3 linked regions of the Homo sapiens genome follow. The protein of the gene in region 3 interacts with the protein of the main gene of each other region in a pairwise test. Each region holds a gene or a part of one and is shown on either strand. Other genes may lie near its edges. The genes, in order: C1orf50, EPM2A and EIF2B1.

The links.
Region 1: the proteins of EIF2B1 (region 3) and C1orf50 interact in binary tests that used the Homo sapiens proteins (3 or more experiments, as listed by UniProt).
Region 2: the proteins of EIF2B1 (region 3) and EPM2A interact in a two-hybrid assay, tested with the Homo sapiens proteins (one study listed by BioGRID).

What each region holds. Positions count from the first base shown.
Region 1 is NC_000001.11:42,773,595-42,777,248, forward strand, and holds part of C1orf50 (uncharacterized protein C1orf50), read left to right. Parts: coding exon 1-55; intron 56-1,142; coding exon 1,143-1,274; intron 1,275-1,614; coding exon 1,615-1,800; 3' UTR 1,801-3,654.
Region 2 is NC_000006.12:145,686,897-145,690,550, reverse strand, and holds part of EPM2A (laforin), read left to right. Parts: intron 1-3,654. UniProt on the Homo sapiens protein: Plays an important role in preventing glycogen hyperphosphorylation and the formation of insoluble aggregates, via its activity as glycogen phosphatase, and by promoting the ubiquitination of proteins involved in glycogen metabolism via its interaction with the E3 ubiquitin ligase NHLRC1/malin.
Region 3 is NC_000012.12:123,623,565-123,627,218, forward strand, and holds part of EIF2B1 (translation initiation factor eIF2B subunit alpha), read right to left. Parts: intron 3,593-3,654; coding exon 3,480-3,592; intron 2,930-3,479; coding exon 2,861-2,929; intron 1,299-2,860; coding exon 1,223-1,298; intron 1-1,222.

The sequences.
Region 1 (3,654 bases), on a different chromosome or scaffold from region 3:
CAAGCTGACAGTCATAGCTGAGCAAATCCAACATTTGCAAGAACAAGCCAGGAAGGTAAGGAATGACTGTTAGACAGGCTTTCATTTTCTTTATTTAGTTCTCAGGATTGGCTGAACTTGTTTATAATCGTTGTGACTTTTTATGTCTTTAATACCTCCTAGAAATGTAGAGGTGTTGAGTAAAATAGAAGGAATAAGCTTAAGAGGTTAAGTATAAGTTTTTGTTTGTCTGTTTGTTTGTTTTTGAGACAGAGGTTTGCTCTTGTTGCCCAGGCTGGAGTGCAGTGGCATGGTCTCAGCTCACTGCAGCCTCTGCCTCCCGGGTTCAAGCGATTCTCCTGTCTCAGCCTCCCAAGTAGCTGGGATTACAGGTGCCCGCCACCACACCCTGCTAACTTTTGTATTTTTAGTAGAGATGGGGTTTTGCCATGTTGGCCAGGCCTGTCTTGAACTCCTGACCTCAGGTGATCTGCCTGCCTCAGCCTCCCTTGTTTTGTTTTTTCCAGGAGAAGGTTTCATGAGGTAAAGCATTTAACAGGGGATTATGTTTTCATTTATAAAAGAAATGTACTTAGCACAGAAAAATAGGAAAGAAGCTTAAAAATTACCCAGGGTCATTAATGCTCAACATTTTGAAATATCTTTTTTTTTGAGATAGGGTATCACTGTATCACACAGGCTGGACTGCAGTGGTGTAGTCTCAGCTCACTGCAACCTCTGCCCCCTGGGCTCAAGTGATCCTCTAGCCTCAGCCTCCCAAGTAGTTGGGAGTACAGGCATATGCCACCACACCTGGCTAATTTTTTGTATTTTTAGTAGAGACAGGGTTTTGCCATGTTGCCCAAGCTGGTCTCCTGAACTCAAGTGATCCACCTGCCATGGCCTTCCAAAGTGCTAGGATTACAGGCATGAATCACTGTGCCTGGCTTGAAATATAATTTTTCTAAAGGCATTTTTACAGCATAGCAGCATAGTCTAATTTTTGTTTCTTCAGAATAATCTGGATCTCAGAAGTGATTCATTGCTATGGGGGAGCAAGATCCTAAGCACTGAATGGTTTCCAAATTTTAATTGGGATGATCACCAAATGTGGGTGCCTGTTATCTCCAATACCTAATTTGTTACATATCTGTGATTCATAGGTACTGGAAGATGCTCACAGAGATGCCAACCTGCACCATGTAGCTTGTAATATAGTGAAAAAACCTGGCAACATTTACTATCTCTATAAACGGGAGAGTGGTCAGCAGTATTTTTCCATCATTTCTCCAAAGGTAAGAACATACATTGTTTGCCCAAAAATCTACTCCAGCCTCTGAGAAATTCTTGGTATATGTGTGAAAATGTAGACATGTGGATTGGTATATGGTTTCTTAGAAAATTGGGGGTGATGTGAGCCCAGACATGACTCTAAAAAATATACCTGTGCTTAAATTATTTCACTCATTTTCTTCATTAAGGGAGGGATCTGATGTGTAAGGTAACTGCGTTCCAAAGGTTGTTCTGACTAGTATGAAGTGAAAAGCCAAAAAAGAGATTGTGGCATGATTAGGAAATGAGCTCAGTTTGTTTACAACCCACGCTGATGGGAACTGCCTCCTTTGCCTTCTCTAGGAATGGGGGACAAGTTGTCCACATGACTTCCTTGGTGCCTACAAACTACAGCATGACTTGTCCTGGACTCCGTATGAGGACATTGAGAAGCAAGATGCTAAAATCAGCATGATGGACACGTTGCTAAGCCAGTCAGTGGCCCTGCCTCCGTGCACTGAACCCAACTTCCAGGGACTGACTCACTGAGAGTGGGCTTTGACAAACAGCTCTCACAGGACCTGGCTGTCAACCTCCTTGTTGCCCCCACTGTTGCCTTGAGAATTGAAGACATGTAGGTGACTCACAAACTTCTTGGAAAGAGACCCTGTGTGAATGTAAATGCTGTCATTATGACTTTTAATTGGGATGGGAATAATCATTGAGACAGAGTCACTGTCTTTCGGGATCCTCTTTGGACCACAGATACCCAAGTCAGTCAGTTTCAGAGTATTGGCCAGTGTACTTTCCTTCTTCCTCTCCATCACTTCTTCCCTTAAGTTAAAGTGTTAGAGAAGACCTTCTTCCCATAAAAAGGTTGGTGGATCGTTTTCCAGAGAGAACTGTTTTCAGTCTTTTATATATATATATATATATATATAACTGGTAGTATTTAACATTGGGGTTGAGGCTGTCTCACAGTTGGTGCAACTCCAGTTTAAAATTCATCTGGGAACGAGAATGTTGAGTAATGGAGGGTGATTTAAAAAACAACAACAACAACAAAAAAAAAAACACTTGGCTTGGCTGGACCAGAGAGTGTGTGATTCTGGGATTTCTGTGCTGTTGATGAGGTTTGTCTTGCCCCTTTTGCTCTCTCTGCCTTGCTAGAGTGACAGAATCTGAGGCAGCAAAGGCCAGGTTTGGGGAGAGTCAACTTTGAAACTCACAAATTTTAGACTTGGAAGAGACATTGGATGCTGCCACTAATCATTATAGAGTCCACTGTGTAGTCTCCCAAGTTGGAAATCCCAGGCTCAGCCACCTGCAGCAGAACAAACCCATTTAAATGGCTACTTAACACTGTGGAAGAGAGTAAGGCAGTAGAGTGAGAAGCAAGAAAAACAGCCAAATTGTTGACTGTGAGTTAACTCAGATTGAAATCCATTTTGACCAGAATTATTCAAGAACTTAACAGGGTTTTGGCAAAATTACTGTAGTTCTTATTCTGACTAGGCTCTTGTAGGACTCTACCTTCTTTCCTATCTGTTTGGTGGAATTAGCTAAGTTTATGGATTATTTCGCATGGCTATAATCTATTGCAATATGCTGTAAAAGGAGGGAGAGATGTGTACTTGAACTGACAATTGGCCAAATTTCTCTCTGGGAATGATGTTCCTGATGCTGATCTGTTTGGTAATACCCTCCCCGGGCCGCCCCCCGATTCATGGTCTTTCCTCATAAACTGCATTTCTTGTGAGCTGTAAGAGGTCTACCTAAGGCCTAGCACAGGATGGGGCTAGAATCTAACAAACTCACTCCGATGATACTTGGTTGCTCGGTTCACATGGGAATGCTCTTTGGACTCAGCTGCAGAGGTCTTTTGCTCAGGTGCTGCAGAGCCGGATGGAAGAGACATTAGTGGTAGAGTAGTGGATTCTGACTACAGAAAGTTTCCCAGGTTTTCAGAAGGTTCTGACCTGCATGATGATGACACATTTTGAATAGGTGCTTTATTAGTTACAGATAAACAAATTACTGCAAACTTAATGGTTTAAAGCAACACCTATTTATTTCAGAGCTTACAGGTTAGGAGTTCAGGCACCATTTCATTGAGTCCTCTGCTTCACAGTTTCTCTGAAACCCTGGAAGGCTGAAATCAAGTTATTGGTCAGGGCTGTTCTTATCTGAAGGCCTGAGTGGGGAAGGATCTGCTTCCAAGCTCACTTAAATTGTTAGCAGAATTTCTTTTCTTTCCTTTCTTTTTTTTTGAGACAGAGTCTCGCTGTATTGCCAGGCCTGAGTACAGTGGCTCAATCTCAGCTTACCGCAACCTCCGCCTCCTGGTTCAAGTGATTCTCCTGCCTCAGCCTCCTCAGTAGCTGAGATTACAGGCGCACGCCA
Region 2 (3,654 bases), on a different chromosome or scaffold from region 3:
TTAGCTCTTTTTTTTTTTTTTTTTTTTTTCTTTTGAGACGGAGTCTCGCTCTGTCGCCCAGGCCGGACTGCGGACTGCAGTGGCGCAATCTCGGCTCACTGCAAGCTCCGCTTCCCGGGTTCACGCCATTCTCCTGCCTCAGCCTCCCGAGTAGCTGGGACTACAGGCGCCCGCCACCGCACCCGGCTAATTTTTTGTATTTTTAGTAGAGACGGGGTTTCACCTTGTTAGCCAGGATGGTCTCGATCTCCTGACCTCATGATCCACCCGCCTCGGCCTCCCAAAGTGCTGGGATTACAGGCGTGAGCCACCGTGCCCGGCCTGAGGTTAGCTCTTATGCAAACCTTTGATTTTAACTGAATTCTTCTGACACCACTCCAGCAGAAGAATGGAGGTCCCACCTTATTACCCAGGTTCCTCACACTGTTTCCATTCATAACCAAACCAAACAGACTCCTCCCTGAGTGGGGTGGTAGTTCTAACTCTCCATTAGGCCTCCATTGATAGCTCCCTGGCTGAGACAGGGAGGAATGCCTTGTTACTGCTTCCTACATGGCATCCACTGATGGTCGGGTGGGAAGGAGGTGGAAATCTTGACTTTCCACTAGGTCACCTTTGTCACGATCTCAGTGGAAAGAAGGGGCACCTCGTTACTGCCAAATGGAGGTGGAAGTCCACCTTTCCACTTGGACTCCACTATATTGCCAACGATGATGCTGAAAGTTTCAGACCCCTACTCATCCTTCTCTGACACCATGATAGTGAGTGGGTTGAGGCACTGCAATACAGCTTGGCAAACAAAAGTGGAAGTGTACCCATGCTTGGCCTTTGCTGGCCTGAGTGGGTGTGGGGCCACATTTTTTCAGTGGGTTTGACTGGAGTAGTGTAGTTATTATCAAACAGATTTCTGTCTGGCTAGGCTTGTCTTTTCATTTGGCTAGAGAGAATGGACTTTTGTCATGTTTTCTTTTTCTGTCCTTGTGTTACCAGGTTGCTGGCTTCTTCAGATCTAAGTCTGGGATATATAAGGCAAAAAGAAAATGCAGGGAACTCAATACTTAGGTCTTTTCTTAGGTCTCAGTGTCCCTGGATAGTCTGTCTTCTTCTCTTTGTCTTTCAAAGTTATCTTATGTTTGTTTATTTATAATTTTCAGGGTTTTAAATTATACTTAGTGGGAGGACTAGGGAAAAGTACATTTATTCCATAGTTCTCCATGCAGAAATCTCCAAAACCAAAATTATTTTACTATTCATTTTTGCCATTTCATTAGGTGAAATTAAAAAGACAATAACCCATCCTCTAAAAGACATTTTAATTATTAGAACATATTTTGAATAACTCAGTTTACTATCCATGAAAGACTTTTAAAAATGTTGCCTAAAACATAAATGTGTAAAAATGAGTAATTAAAGAAATCACTCTAGGAATGAAGAATTCTTATGAAGATGATGACACATAAATAATTCTTCTTGACCATTGTAATTTATGAATATTTGATCTCTTCAACAATTATATTTTTAATAGGTAATAATTCAATTGTTGTAAGTCAATTATACTGACCAATGGGAGCCACAGATATTGTTTTATTTAACTAAAAAAGTAACACCCGCTCCTTGTAACTAATCCAATCAATTCAAAACAGTTGACTATGACAGTTCCCCTCCATCCAATTCCATTTCCTAGAAGTAACCATATCCAGTTTGTAGTCTATGTTTACACTTTCAGTCATGCTCTGCTGCTTCACTTAGTCACTCCTACTTTTCCTTTTCAGCTCCTCTATTCATCTTTTGTAAGTTTATCCTTCTCTCGCTGGCTGTTAAACATTGAAAAACTTTCAGACTTTGTTCTAGAACTTTTTTCCTTATTAATATTGTTTTTCTTTGTGACTCATCTATGTTCCTATTTCAATTACCATTTACACTCAAATTACTCATATATTTATTTTTTTAGTTCAGATTTCTGGTCTTAATGTCAAATGAGTAACTCCAGCTCTCTTTTGAGGACTCCTTTTGGATATCTAAAGAGCACTCCAAACCCAACATTGCCAGAACTAGATAGATGATCTTTCCTTACAGCCTCTTTCAGATTTTGCATCTCAGTGAATAGTGCCACTGTATATTGAATTATTTTCACTAGAAGCTTAAGAGGCATTGTTAATCCCCTTTCATCTTCACCTTCCTTTTCCAATTAATCACCAAGTCCTGTGGCCTTTCCCTCTTGAATCTGCATAATCCTTTCAAAGTCTGTGACCAAGCTTCATCATAAACTACCTAGGCCAATATAGTAGTTTCTTAAATGGACTCTCTGCTTCTATCTGATTGTTCTTGAATTATTTTTTTACTCTGTAGCCAGAGAGGTATCCTTAAAATAAAATCTGGTTATGTTACATGCCTGCTTAGAATATTTCAAATTTTTAGTTGCTCTTATGATAAATATCTGAGTTCTTAACATGACCTAGCACAGTACCTGTCTCAATAAATATCTGTAGAAGAATGAAAAAAAACTTATATGGTTTACAGTATTTTCTATTAAAATAGTATTACTGTACGCATGTATCTCTGTGTGCATCAGAAATTCTTTTTTCTTAGTAATATTTCTGTTGGATATGTTTCTAGAAGTGAGGTTGCTAGTGTAGTTTGGTTTTTATCTATTAAAAATGAAGGTTAATAGAGATGTGGTGCAGCACCTTGTAGTCGTCGAGAAAAAAAATCCATTAAGAGAAAAAAGAGGAGACTGATCTAGGAAGATCAGTAATGGTTTATTAAGAGAGTCATCCTGTACCTTCTGTCTGATGGAAGGAGTTATATCTCAAAGAAACATCAAATAATTTAAGGATTTTTTGAGAGCTTACGCCAAGCAAATTTAGGTTAAATATTTTGTAAGACAGAACAAAGAGAAAAGAACAAATGAATCACATTTTTGTATTCATAACAAATGTGATTTATTTCTGTAAACCACTCATGCATTTAGTTTGCTTACATGTCTTTCTTACAGTACATTATACTTAGGTAGTATAAAGAGAGGCATGATTTGAAATGGGATGATAAAAAGGTAGTAAAAATAATGTATGAATTATAATTTTTGTAGAAATCAAGGTTTACTAGTATGTAAGACCATTTGAGCTGCTATAAACAAAACACCATATATTGGTTAGCTTATGAACAATAGAAATTTATTGCTTACAATTCTGGAGGCTGGGGGGTCTAAGATTGAGGCATACCAGATTCAGTGATTGGTGAGGGCTCACTTACTGGTTCATAGATGGCGACGACTTGCTGTGTTCTCACATGGTGGAACAGAGCAAGGGGTTTCTTTCACCCCTCTTTTATAAGGGAGCTAATCACATTTGTGAGGGTTCTTCTTCATGACCTAATCATCTCCTAAAGGCCCCAGCTTCTAATACCAACACCTTGGGTGTTAGGATTTCAACATATAAATTTTGGGGGGACAAAAACATTCATACCATAGCAACTAGTGTAGTTGATACTGGGCAATCGTGAAATAGGCAAATAATATTTTTAGAGATGTGTGTCTGCTTCCTTTGATCCATGGCCCTGGAAGGAAGATGGTGTGTCTTTGTGCATGTGACATCAGCAGGGAGCATCACAAAGGCATCAGACGCCAGAAAGGTGGGGGACTAGGAGAGGCAGGTG
Region 3 (3,654 bases):
CAGGTTCAAGCGATTCTCCTGCGTCAGCCTGCCAAGTAGCTGGGATTACAGGCACCCGCCACCATGCCCAGCTAATTTTTTGTATTTTTAGTAGATATGGGGTTTCACCATGTTGGCCAGGCTGGTCTCGAACTCCTGACCTCAGATGATCTACCTGCCTCAGCCTCCCAAAGTGCTGGGATTATAGGCGTGAGCTACTACGCCCGGCCTTATGTTACATATATTTTAACTAAAAAAAGCTTTCATGAAGCTTTTCTAAATTAAATAATGGAGAGAGAGATTGTAATAAATTGAGGTCAAATGTGCTCAATTAAAATGAAAACAAATGACAGGCCGGCCACAGTGGCTCATGCCTGTAATCCTAGCACTTTGGGAAGTGGAAAGATTGCTTCAGGCTAGGAGTTCAAGACTGCAGTAAGCTATGATCACTGTACTACACTACAGCCTGGGCAACAGAGTGAATGTGTCTCTATTTTAAAATATATATAATATTTATATATAAATACACGTATTTTATACATACATACTTTATATGTAAATATATAAATAATATTTTAAAAATATTTGTGTATATATATTATGTGTGTGTATATATATGCATAAATAAAACATACATATACACATAAATAAAGCAAAAACCAGACAAACCCCAATTCCAATTCAAGCCAATTTTGTATAAATATAAATTACACTTTTTTTTTTTTTTTTTTTACTGAGACAGGGTCTCACCATCGCCCAGGCTGGAATGCAGTAGTGTGATCATAACTTACTGCAACCTCAAATTCCTGGGCTCACGTGATACTCCTGCCTCAGCTTCCTGGGCAGCTGGAACTACAGGCAAGCACCACCACGCCCAGCTAATTTTTCTAATTTTTTGTAGAGACAGGGTTTCACTATGTTGCCCAGGCTGGTCTTGAACTCAAGGCCTCAAGTGATCCTCCCACCCTGGCCTCTCAAATTGCTAGGATTACAGGTATAAGGCATCACACCTGACCAAATTACATTGTCTTCATTTATGTAGATCAATCTAAAAAAGATTTGACTGAAACTGGACTGCCCATTGCTATGACTTACGGGAAATGGGCAACAACTCAATACCATGATGAAGTCCTGAAGTGAAGCAGGATTAGAAGGAACCATAATCAACACTGCTGTGGTGTCCTAGGTCAGCAAGACACCTCCAAGTCTTGAGCAGGGAACTGGGGAGAACTGATGCTCTTACCTTGTTAATAATTCCTCCGTTTTCAACAACTCCTTCAGCACCAACTATGACAAGATCTGCTTTCTCCATGATGTAGCTAAGGGGAAAAAAAGCTTTTCATGCTTTATTTTCTTGGCTCTAACGAGTAGCATCATCATCTGCAAAGATCAATATTCCATTTCTATCAAGGTAAGTTCCTCCCATAACTACCTGTTTTTTTTAAAGCGCACTTAACACGCGATAGACCCCTGGCATTGTTACCAGGGGTGTTTTCTGGTCATGACCCTACAATGAGACATACACTTCACACTGCCGCCCGGCGCATGCACACGTACATATGTGTGTAAGTGAAGCAAGAATGTCCTGACACAGCAGTCTTCCTTCCAAGTGTGGTATCCTCTACTTTCTTTTCTACTTCAGCACAAACCAAACAAAATTTTAAAATCTGATGAGATCTGAAGTTGGACAAAAGTGTTATGCAGTTTTAAAAATCTTTCTTTTTTTTTTTGAGACCAGATCTCACTCTGTTGCCCAGGCTAGAGTGCAGTGGCATGATCTCAGCCCAAACCTCTACCTCTTAGGCTCAAGCGATCCTCCCATTTCAGCCTCCCAGGTAGCTGGGACCACAGCATATGCCACCATGCCCTAGAGATGGGGTTTCGCCATATTGCCCAGGCTGGTCTCCAACTCCTGAACTCTAGCGATCCACCTGCCTCAGGTATGAGCCACTGTGCCCAACCTTAAGAATCTTTCTGGTAGGATGAAGGCCAATTTAGTCTTTAAAATGAGCAATTAGTAGAATTCCTCAAAATCCTTACTTTTGAACACATTCCTAATTTCCTTAATCATCTATCTTGTTTTCATTCCAAGAGATCACTACTCTTGTTTTTTCTTGGGAAATACACTGACAATCCCAGGAACATGTGACTTGGCTTTGCGACACAAGCTGCATCTTCTAGGTGAGACAAAGCATCCCAGTATGCCACTGAGGACAGCCAGGTCTTCACAGAAATACAGAGCCCTGATTACCCTCTGCTGATCCCAACTGACCTTTGTACTTTGCTCTTAAAATGCATTTGCACTGGCTGGGCGTGGTGGCTCACGCCTGTAATCCCAGCACTTTGGGAGGCCAAGGCGGGCAGATCACCTGAGTTCAGGAGTTCGAGACCAGCCTGGCCAACATGGTGAAACCCCATCTCTACTAAAAATATAAAAGAATTAACGTGGCATGGTGGCATGCGCCGGTAATCCCAGCTACTTAGGAGGCTGAGGCAGGAGAATCGCTTGAACCTGGGAGGTGGAGATTGCAGTGAACCAAGATCATGCCATTGCACTCCAGCCTGGGCAACAGGGCAAGACTCCATCTCAAAAAAACAAAAAACAAACAAACAAAAACAACAACAACAACAAACTCAACACTTACAGCCATAAAGCTATAGACACAACTCCCACTCTCCCCAACATCCTACAGCTCTGTCTTCTTTGTATGCTATCACAACCTCATAACAAGCTTGCTGGTTTAGGGCAGCTATTAATTAAGAAGTAGGACGCTACCTGGTGTGGCTTTATGAACGGGACTCAAACTTTCAATCTGAAAACTTGCTGTAAGCCAGCATGGGGTGGGGGAGGTGATTATGGCTGGGGAAGATGGGCACTCACCCGACAGCAGCATCTAGCACCACAGTGACAGGGACGTTGAGGTGGCAGAGGGCTTTGGCCATTTTCTTACTGAAGATGACATTTTGAGAACGTTAGAGAAAGTACAAGACAGTACCACAGTGATGTATGTCACCTAATGTGGACAGTGGATGTTTGCTTGAAACTCACATTAATACTAATGGGTTAAGGGGCAGATCCCAATACTTTGGACTAAGGAAACAAGAATTTGAGTTCTTTAGAAAGAAGTATTTTTGGAAAACTATACTCTTAGACTCTGGGTAAGAGATGTAAATTCAGGAAAAAAGGAGGAAGTTTTGCTTTGATTATCGTCTAGAGAGAGGGAGATATAAGTTACCTATTCCTTGATAAAAATCTTCATCAATACAATCTCTGCTCTTCCACGGAGTTAACTACTTAAGTGAAACCCCTAGATCATATACTGCGGCCTGCTGCAAATTCAGTGATTTTTCTTCCAAAGGCAGGAAAAGGTACAATGAAAGGCAGTGCTGACTGCTGGCAAGCTGGGGGCACATTCTGGTTCTGATCCTGTTGGACTGTAATCCGCAGTTTGCTCTGTAAAATTATGGCTGGGCACATAACTGAACAGAAAGGTACTTGCCCTGACAAATCAGGCTGTGACTCTGTGACGTATACACTAAATCGCTTCTTGGCCGCCACGGCTGCTTCCAGGACTCTCAGGACCACTCTGGAGTAGGCGTGAGTCAATATTGTCTGTGGACCGAGAAAGCTTTGTCAAAGGGGCAGGCTCCTTGCTGCTCACTCACACCCTCTGC